Regions from separate parts of the Homo sapiens genome. Here region 2 is linked to region 1. Evidence: fine-mapped expression QTL. A gene starts in region 1. The other region holds a variant in brackets. All regions are shown on one strand. Distances are between the middles of the regions. Region 1 holds the start of WNT11 (Wnt family member 11). Region 2 overlaps WNT11 (Wnt family member 11).

Region 1 (4,373 bases):
AACTTCGAGGAGGTGACCGCTCGCTCTCCAAAGGTGCTACGCCTGGCGCGGCCCACTACGCGCCCGGCCCCAAGCAAGGGGCCGGGCAGGTCAGGGCGGCCCACGGCAAGTGTCCTATAGAACGACCAGGACACAGGGGGCACTCCCTCGACACGTCGTCCCATCCCCAGACGGAGAAGCGGGGGCCCAGGAAGAGGACTTGACCCCAGCCCGCGACGCAGGAGGCAGCCGCGATTCCCCCCTCCTCGAGCCCCGGCTTAGCGCCCCCTGGCGGGCTGGGGGCTTCAGGAGGCGCGTGCACCCTGACCCGCGAGCTCAGGCGGAAGGTGACCCCGTGGCCTGCGCGGCTGTCCCGGGCGCTCGTACAAGGGACAGGAACAGTCCGTCAGGACCCAGAGGCTCGGGCCAGGCGCTGCCTCCCCGCGCGACGAGCTTGGGCGGCGGAGGGAGAGCCTTGGGACAGCCGGGGCTGCACCGAAAGAGCTGGGCGGGGCTGGAGGCCTGGGTCCCCGTCCGCTGTGCGACCTAGGGGGCTCCTCCTCTCCCTGGGAGACCAGGCTGGACACAGATCCCCCGCTGTGAGTCCGCGCGCCTCCGTCCTCTTGCAGCCCCCGCCCCCTCCCCACCCAGGAATGCCGGGTGCCTTCGGGGGGCGGCGCACTTTGGGAGAGGGGAAGACGGTGACTGGAGTTTTGATTCCCCCCTCCATATCCAGCGGATATTTTTCTCGTTCTGAGAAGTGCAAGAAACTTGCAGGACCAGGAAGACAAAGGATTTGGATACAGGCTGGGTGGGAGGACGGGACTGGGTTACACCGAGAACCCCTCTGAGACCCCCAGCCTTGACGGCATGTTTGTCGCAGGCGCCCCTGTGCTGGGCGCTAGCTGCGGGGCTCTGCGGAGGAAAAAAACTGTACGATCCAGGCTTCTCCTCGCCTTCCTGTGGGTTTTGCCGACAGGCTCCAGAAAACAGTGGGGCTTCCCATCTCTGCGTGCTGACTACCCACGCGCAGGAACGCGCCACGCAGGTGGCGTCGCGGTGCAAATAGCAGAGGGGCGCTGAGCCCCGCAGGCTGCAGGGAGACGGGGTCCTCGGGGGACGCACGGCGAAGCCCCATTCCTCGTTCTTATGGAAGGGGACACCGAGGCTGGGGTGGCTGAGGGCTTGCCCAAGCTCACAGAGCCAGATAAGAACGTCCCTTTTCTGCTCCAGCGCCCCCACTACCGTGGGCGCCTCCTTTTCCAACTCCCCAAACCCTTAGAAAGGAATCCCTTTGTCTCTGCTCCTCCCGAGGGGAGAGGGGCTGGGGCTGTGTCTGACTCCGGGCGAACGCCAGGTGTTGGTAAATTTGGGAGAAGCTGGGAAGGGAGTTAATGAGGTGAGAATGAAGTGAAGGAGAAAAAAAGCGGAGATAGCTGCTCCGCGGGCTGCGGGCGGGCGGGGCAGCCTCTCCTCCGCGGCCCGAGGGCGCCGCCTGGAGGCCAGAGGCAACACCGCGCCAGCCCCGCGAGCTTCCCCGCTTCGCTAAGGCGGGGCTGCCCAGTCCCAGCCCGCATGCTTCCACTCCCACCCTCCAAAGTGGAGCGGCTAAAGACGGACTTGGAGACTCGGAATCCTCACTGTACAAAGAGCCCTACCATCCCGTTTCCCATCCTCCCCTTCCCACACCGAGAAAGCAGGGCCCCGAGCAAGCCCCATTTCCTGATTTCGCCGGACACCCGGCTTGCCGCTCCCTAGCTGAACCCCACCTCTGTGCCTCAGTTTCCTCATCTGTGAGATGAGGCAGCGATAGTGCCTATCTCACGGGGTGCTGGGAGGAGCAGATGCGATCGTGTTAGGGAACTTTTTTTGTTTGTCTGTTTGTTTGAGACGGAGTTTCGCTCTTGTCGCCCAGGCTAGAGTGCAGTGGCGCAATCTCCGCTCGCTGCAACCTCCGCCTCCCGGGTTCAAGCGGTTCTCCTGCCTCAGCCTCCCGAGTAGCTGGGATTACAGGCGCCCGCCACCACGCCCGGCTAATTTTTTGTATTCGTAGTAGAGACGGGGTTTTGCCATGTTGGGCAGGCTGGTCTCGAGCTCCTGACCTCAGGTGACCCGCCCGCCTCGACCTCCCAAAGTGCTGGGATTACAGGCGTGAGCCACCCTGCCCGGCCAGGGAACGTTCTTTATAAAAGCGGAATTGTGCCCGAATTGCCCCAGCTTACTGAGGAGGTAAACTGAAACACGTTTGGGAAGGAGAATTGCCGAGGCCCTATTAACTAATGCTCAATATTGCAGGGATAAGCCCCAGCTCCGGGTCCTCGACTCTGCTGCCTCGCCTGGACTCCTGATTCCTCATTCCTCTCCTTTCCGTCCCAGGTTGCGTCTGTCCGGGTTTCCCCCTCTGTCTCCGTGGCTCTCAGCCTTGTCCTCTGAGCGTCCTTCTCCCTCTCGCTGTGTCTGCCCGGTCTCTCCTGGGTCTCCGGTTCTGCCGCCTCCTGTCCCTCCTTCCGGCTGCCCCGGCCAGAGGGGCTCGAAGGCGCGTTGGGGCCCGGGGCCACGCTGGGAGACACGCCTTCGGCCGCGCCTAATTCGAGCCAGGCGCGGGACGCGTCCCCCGGCCGGGCGGAGCGGGAGGGGACGCCCGCCGCGCTCGGCCTCCCCGGGCCCCGACCCCTCCTTTGTAATTTGAATAAAACGCCTCCCCCGCCCGCGCGCCGCCTTAACCCGCCGCCTCCGCTCTCCCCGGCTGCAGGCGGCGTGCAGGACCAGCGGCGGCCGTGCAGGCGGAGGACTTCGGCGCGGCTCCTCCTGGGTGTGACCCCGGGCGCGCCCGCCGCGCGACGATGAGGGCGCGGCCGCAGGTCTGCGAGGCGCTGCTCTTCGCCCTGGCGCTCCAGACCGGCGTGTGCTATGGCATCAAGTGGCTGTGAGTAGGGACCCCGCGTCCACGCGCACAGGCCAGGGACTGGGGCGGCGGAGGGCGTTTTGGGGTCCCCTGGATGGGGCGAGCGCACCAAGACCCGGGAGCCTAAGCTGGCTTGGCGGTCGTGGGCAAGTCATCCCTCAGCCTCTGTTTCCTCCTCTGTAAAATGTCCCTGCCTCCCGCAGGCTTGCGAAAAGGGAGTGAGACGGGCGTGGACCACAATGGAAGCGCCTGGTCCTGTGCAGCTGACGGTGGCGCAAGGGCCACGGAGTTTCTGGCCACCTCCGCAGGGGCAGATGGAAAAAGACATTCTGTTCAGGGGGCGCAATCCAGAGCGGCCAGCCCAGGAGCGGTCCTTGTCCGTCAGTCTCCTTGACCCTAGCGGGAGTTCCGCTGAGACACTCCTGACCCCTCCACCTGGGCGACCTTGGGAAAGTGTCACTCTACTTCTTGGGGCCTCCTTGTCCTCCTCTGTCACGGGAGGGTGAGACTCCCCACCTCCCTCAAATCAGATGAGAAGAGGCTCCTGAAAGGACCTCAGAAGCTGTCAGATGCCACTGTGCACATGTGCAGGGCATTCCTTTAGATAGAAATTATTCACGCAGGGGTAGGAGGGAGAGAGAGGCTTGGTGCCGAGCTGAAGGGAGTGCCTGCTCAGGGGGCTGGGGGTGGTGAAGAGAGGAGTAAACACCAGCCCCTTCCCGGAGGAGCTGCGCTCTAAGTTGAGAGAGATAAGCCCAGGCTGTAAATAACTCCACAAGTGTCCAAGTGCCCGAGGAGAAACCAGAGCGGGAATCTGGAGGCCTAGAGGAAGGAAGCCCACCTGGTGGGGACACAGATGTGAGACACCGGGAAGCTTTTCCGAGGCTGTGCCTCTGGTGACTGAAGCGCTGCTGGGAGTTGGCTGGTTCGGGCAATGGAGAGGACGCTGTGGGCAGAGGGGCTCCCTGAGAGGGAAAGTCCAGGACAGGACAAGGGTCTGGAATCTGGGGCCAGGGCAGGGAGCCTGCAGATAAGACAGCAGGGGGCAGGTTGTGGGGGCTGGGGAGGGCGCTGCAAAGGGTTTGTGAATTAGTTGGAAGACAGGGTGATAGTGGCTGCGCCGCCAGCAAACAGTCTGGAGGTCACTGGCCCTGCCCCTTCTCAGGCCAAGTTATTGATTAATTGACGATTCGAGGAGGGAACCCCGTCTTCCTGCCTTTCTTGTTTACAAGAAGCCTGGTCTCAGCAATCTCCCAGCCCTGGGCACTAGCTTTTCCCAGCTGTCCCTGAGGAGTTCTGTGAGAAACCAGCCACCTTCCTTTTGCAATGGGGTACCCAGCACTGTTCCAGCTGGCAGGGACCTCCGATCAGCGAGTCCAAGCTCTCTCATCCACCGCCACCATTTTACAGATAAGGATACTAAGGTCCAGGGAAGGAGAGGATTGGCTGAAGGAGCGTCAGAGGCCTTGCAGTGGGCTTGGGTGTCATT
Region 2 (4,373 bases), 22 kb after region 1:
AGACTTGACCTTTCAGGGCCACAGAGACCAGCCTCCGGGAAGGGGTCTGCCCGCCTTCTTCAGAATGTTCTGCGGGACCCCCTGGCCCACCCTGGGGTCTGAGCCTGCTGGGCCCACCACATGGAATCACTAGCTTGGGTTGTAAATGTTTTCTTTTGTTTTTTGCTTTTTCTTCCTTTGGGATGTGGAAGCTACAGAAATATTTATAAAACATAGCTTTTTCTTTGGGGTGGCACTTCTCAATTCCTCTTTATATATTTTATATATATAAATATATATGTATATATATAATGATCTCTATTTTAAAACTAGCTTTTTAAGCAGCTGTATGAAATAAATGCTGAGTGAGCCCCAGCCCGCCCCTGCAGTTCCCGGCCTCGTCAAGTGAACTCGGCAGACCCTGGGGCTGGCAGAGGGAGCTCTCCAGTTTCCAGGCAAGGCGGCTTCCGATTGATGTCCCTTCTCCCCCCGCGCTCCCCCCACACCAGGCCCTGGCCCTGATCTCCCTGTAAGAGCTCTTGGTCAAGGGCGAGGACAGACGTCTTGAAACATAAACCCAGCTGGCAGCATCTTTTTTCCTCAGGGACACACACGCAGGCGCAGCTCAAAGCCTGGCCGTGTTGTCAGGCCTGCCTGCTAAGCTGGCTTCAAGGGAAAACACTCCCTGGGCAGCTGGGATGCAGACTTCGGGGAGGTGGTGCAGATCCAGGCTCTAGCTAGCCCTGGTGGGTTTTCTGCGTGACCCTGGGGAGGGCTCTCTGCCAGCTGCAGTTTCCCCATTTGTAAAATGGGAGTGGTGGGGAGGAAGGCTGAAGGTTGGGAAAGGCCTCGTGCCTGGAGGCTGGCAGCATTGGACGTGTTGAGAAGTGGTTGGATTCTGGTTCTGTTTTGAAGGGGGAGCCAACAGGATTTGTTCTCTTTTTGCATGTGGGGTGTAAGGGGAAGGAGGCCCAAGAATGACTGCCGGGGTTTTGGCTGGAGCACTGGGAAGGCTGAAGGGGCCGAATGCCGACATGGGGGTGGGGAGAGGCCTGGGGTTCAGATTTGGGCCCGTGGGGATTGTGATACAGTTTACGCTCCTAGTGGAAATACTGAGTGGCCGGGCAGATATCCGGGTCTGGAGTGCTGGGGAGCGGCCAGGGCTGGAGATCCACATTTGGGTGTCATCGCTAAGGGAGTGTGTGGGATAGAAGAGTAAAGAGGACCAAGGCCTGGGGCACTCCTGCCTTGGAGGCTGGGGAGATGAAGCTCAGAGAAGACACAGGAGACAGAAGGAACAGCCAGGGAGGCAGGAGGGAGGTCGGCGGTCCTGGCTGTTGCCAAGTGAAGACAGGGTGCCAAGGGGAACAGGATCACCGCAGGCACATCACTGTCCCTCTGAGCTTCCGTGTCACCTCCCTCATGGAGGCAGCACCAGTAACCAAGAGATGAGTAAGTGGGGTATCCCCAGTGCCTGGCCAGGGCAGGTGGCCCCGAAACAGAAGCAGTGGTTCATCACCTGGATCTTGCTGTGGCTGGGGTGTAAGAGGATGTTATAATCCAAATCTCTGCATGCACCAGAGAGACTCGGACTTAGTACCAGTGCTCTTCCCTCCCCGAGCCGGCTGAGGACTGAGACACCACCTGGAGGGGCTGGGGCAGAGCGGGGCCTTGCACAGGATTTGGAGAAGTGAAGCCACATCCTTGGGGGTGGGATGGCATGGATGACCCCTCAGGGGCTGGACCCATCCTGAGTGGGAAGAAGGGGGCCTTCTGTGGCCATCCTCGAGGCCCTGCCTGAAAGCTTGCAGTG[C/G]GGACAGCCAGAGCCACAGCGTCACCAGCTGCAAGGAACCTCAAGATAAGTCTTCTGGTGTGTTTTGCAGATGAGGAAATTCAGAGATGGGAAGGGCCTTCCTGTGGTCACAGAGCTGATAAGGGGCTGGGAACGGGGGGAGGTGGAGCCTTCCCGGGTGGGGCCCCTGCCAGCCCCTCTGTTGAAAACCCCCAGCCTCCCTGGAAGGAGCCCCTGGAATGTGCGCTCTCCAGGCCCAGGGCTTCCCTGCTTCATAGCTCTCAGCAACCTCCTAGCCCACAAAACCAATCCCCAGTCCCTAGCCTGGAACACAAGGCCTGTCCCCCAGGCGATTCTTCCAACAGCATTTCCTGCAACTCCCAGCTGCTCAGCCTGCCTGCCCTCTGGGCATCTGCTGTTCTCCCTCGCCAAGAGTGCTGTTTTCCCTGCTGGAATCCCACACAACCCTCACAGCCCTCTCCACAAAACCTTCCCCAGTGCCCTAGGTGGAAGGGATCTCCCCCTCTTCAGGCACCCCACAACCCTCTGAACATTTAAAGCAGCCATCACCCTCCTTCTCAAGCTGCCAGCCAATGCCCTCTTCTGCAAAAGCCAGGTAAATGGCTCCCTCCTCCAGGAAGCCCTCCCCAACTACCCTCAGCCTGGGTCAGGGGCCTCCTCTGGGTTTCCACAGCCTCTGTGCTCCCTGCAATGTTTCATGGAACCAAGGTGTTGTGGAGGCCTATGTTGTGTCATATCATCTGTCTTCCCCACCTGTCTGGGGCCTTTTCATGGGCTGGGACCAGCCATATGCACCAATGGGCCCTGGGATCTGGGGGGCAGCACAACAGGGCTGGGTATAAAACATACCTCCAAAATGTTGGATTTGGGAGTGTCCTTTGGACCTCTGTCAGGACAAGTAAATGGGGAAACCAGACCAAGGACCCAGAATGGCTCTCAGAAAGGGTGGCCACATGATATAACTGCTACCATTTATTGTGCACCTGCTGTGTGACCTTCTAAACACAGTGGCCCAAGTCATCACAGCAGCCCTCCGAAGTGAGTATTGTTACCATTGACAGAGGAGGAAACTGAGGCTCTGCAAGAAAAGGCGGCTCGCTCCAGACCTCAGGAAAACTCCCAGCACAGCAGGGCTCTGAGCGCAGGTGCGTTCCTGCTCACATGTCCGCACTCCCAGCAGGCTCGGGGGAGCTGCATGGAGAGCTGAAGACCGTTTCCTGGGCTGAGCTGGAGGGCTGGGAGGGGAGTCCTCAAGCTCAGGACAGGAGACCCTGGGGGGGGGTCCCTGACTCAGCGGGCTACTGGCCCGTCCCCACATCTGTGACAAAGCACTTAACCTTTCTGGCTGGCCAGGAGCTGGACAACCGAAGGGCAGTGGGAGCTGGTCCCGGTGCTTCCCCTCACCCCCAGGTCAAGGCTCTAAGAATGCAACCAGGCTGAGCCCCACTCCGGGGAGGTGGATGCTGGGGCCTCTGCCAGGTGCATCACAGGGGTGTGGAGGCTCCCAGGACCTCGGAGCTCTGGTAGCTCAGGATCTCATTGTGTTCAGAGATTTGGAAACGTGAGATCTTGGTACTCAGGAATTGTGGAGTAGAAACCCCAAACCACTGCCTTGCCAGCCCTGTAGAGGCCCCCAGGCCAATGGCCAACCCAAAGGATTTTGAAGGCTGCATACTGATCTGAGGGTGTCAGAATTCTTGTCCCCAGCAGATTTCCCTTCCCAGGACTTGCTCCATCTCCCTCCTGTGTAAGGGGCAGCAGTCACAGACAGGGCTGTGTGAGGCTTGGAGAGCCCCCGAAAGATGGAGACTCCCCAGTGATGACAGCACCAGCCGCTCTGAGGCGGCTCTGAACCAAGTGTGGGAGGCTGGCTGGAGACCTGGGAGAGACAGGGTCTGAGGAGGGAGACAAGAAGGCGGCAGAGAGGAAACAGGAACTCCTGAAAAGAGGGAGAGATTAGTTTGGTGGGAAAGGGGAGAGTGGACAGATAAGACCCCGTGAGGAGGCCAGGCCAGGCCAGAGGAACAACCAAGGGGCCCAAGCCCAGCCCTGAGCAAGCCACTGGTCTGTGGTTCCTGAGGCTGTGGAGACCAGCCACTGGGTTACACAAACCAGGCCCCAGCATGATGCAGTCTCCAGTCCGGAACCCCAGACCCAGAGAGGCTGGACGGGGTAAGGGGAGTTTAGGGCTAGGAGGTAGGAATCCTGCATCTTTTCTAGCTTCTTGCTGTGTGACTCTAGGCAACCACTGGCCCTCTCTGGGCCTCTTCGGCAGTTGTTTTGTCCAATTCTTACACCCAATCTAAGGGATATGACCCAGTATCTCTGTTTTATTGATGAGGAAACTAAGGCTCAGAGAGGGAAGTGACTGGCCCAATGTTAGAGAATAATTAGTGGAGGAGCTGAGATTCAAACCTCGGACTGCTTGGCTCCAACTGTTGGGCTTGTCTCAGCCTCCACAACATGCATCCCAGGGATGAAGGTGGTCTGTGACTGAGTGGGGGTTTTGACTGGGAGCCGCTGGAGGGCATTGCAAGAGAGGAACAGGGAACAATTCAAGACTGAGCAGTTCCTGACATCT

Evidence for each region. PIP is the estimated chance that this variant, and not a neighbour inherited with it, causes the effect.
Region 2: its variant is the best candidate, but not a certain one, in a credible set for the expression of WNT11 in whole blood (INTERVAL, PIP 0.80).

The regions. Positions count from the first base shown.
Region 1 is chr11:76,204,857-76,209,229 of GRCh38, reverse strand. WNT11 (Wnt family member 11) reads left to right here and starts at 2,728. Exons shown (of 5, transcript NM_004626.3): 1 at 2,728-2,905. The coding sequence starts at 2,823. RefSeq lists enhancers at 1-269, 1,604-2,271 and silencers at 1,376-1,595, 2,576-2,815.
Region 2 is chr11:76,182,390-76,186,762 of GRCh38, reverse strand. WNT11 (Wnt family member 11) reads left to right here. Exons shown (of 5, transcript NM_004626.3): 5 at 1-438. Among named protein-coding and RNA genes, the nearest start is that of WNT11, 22 kb to the left of the region's middle. RefSeq lists enhancers at 1-81, 863-1,643, 1,644-2,425 and a silencer at 1,797-1,986. The variant C/G (reference allele first, on the strand shown) is at 1,793.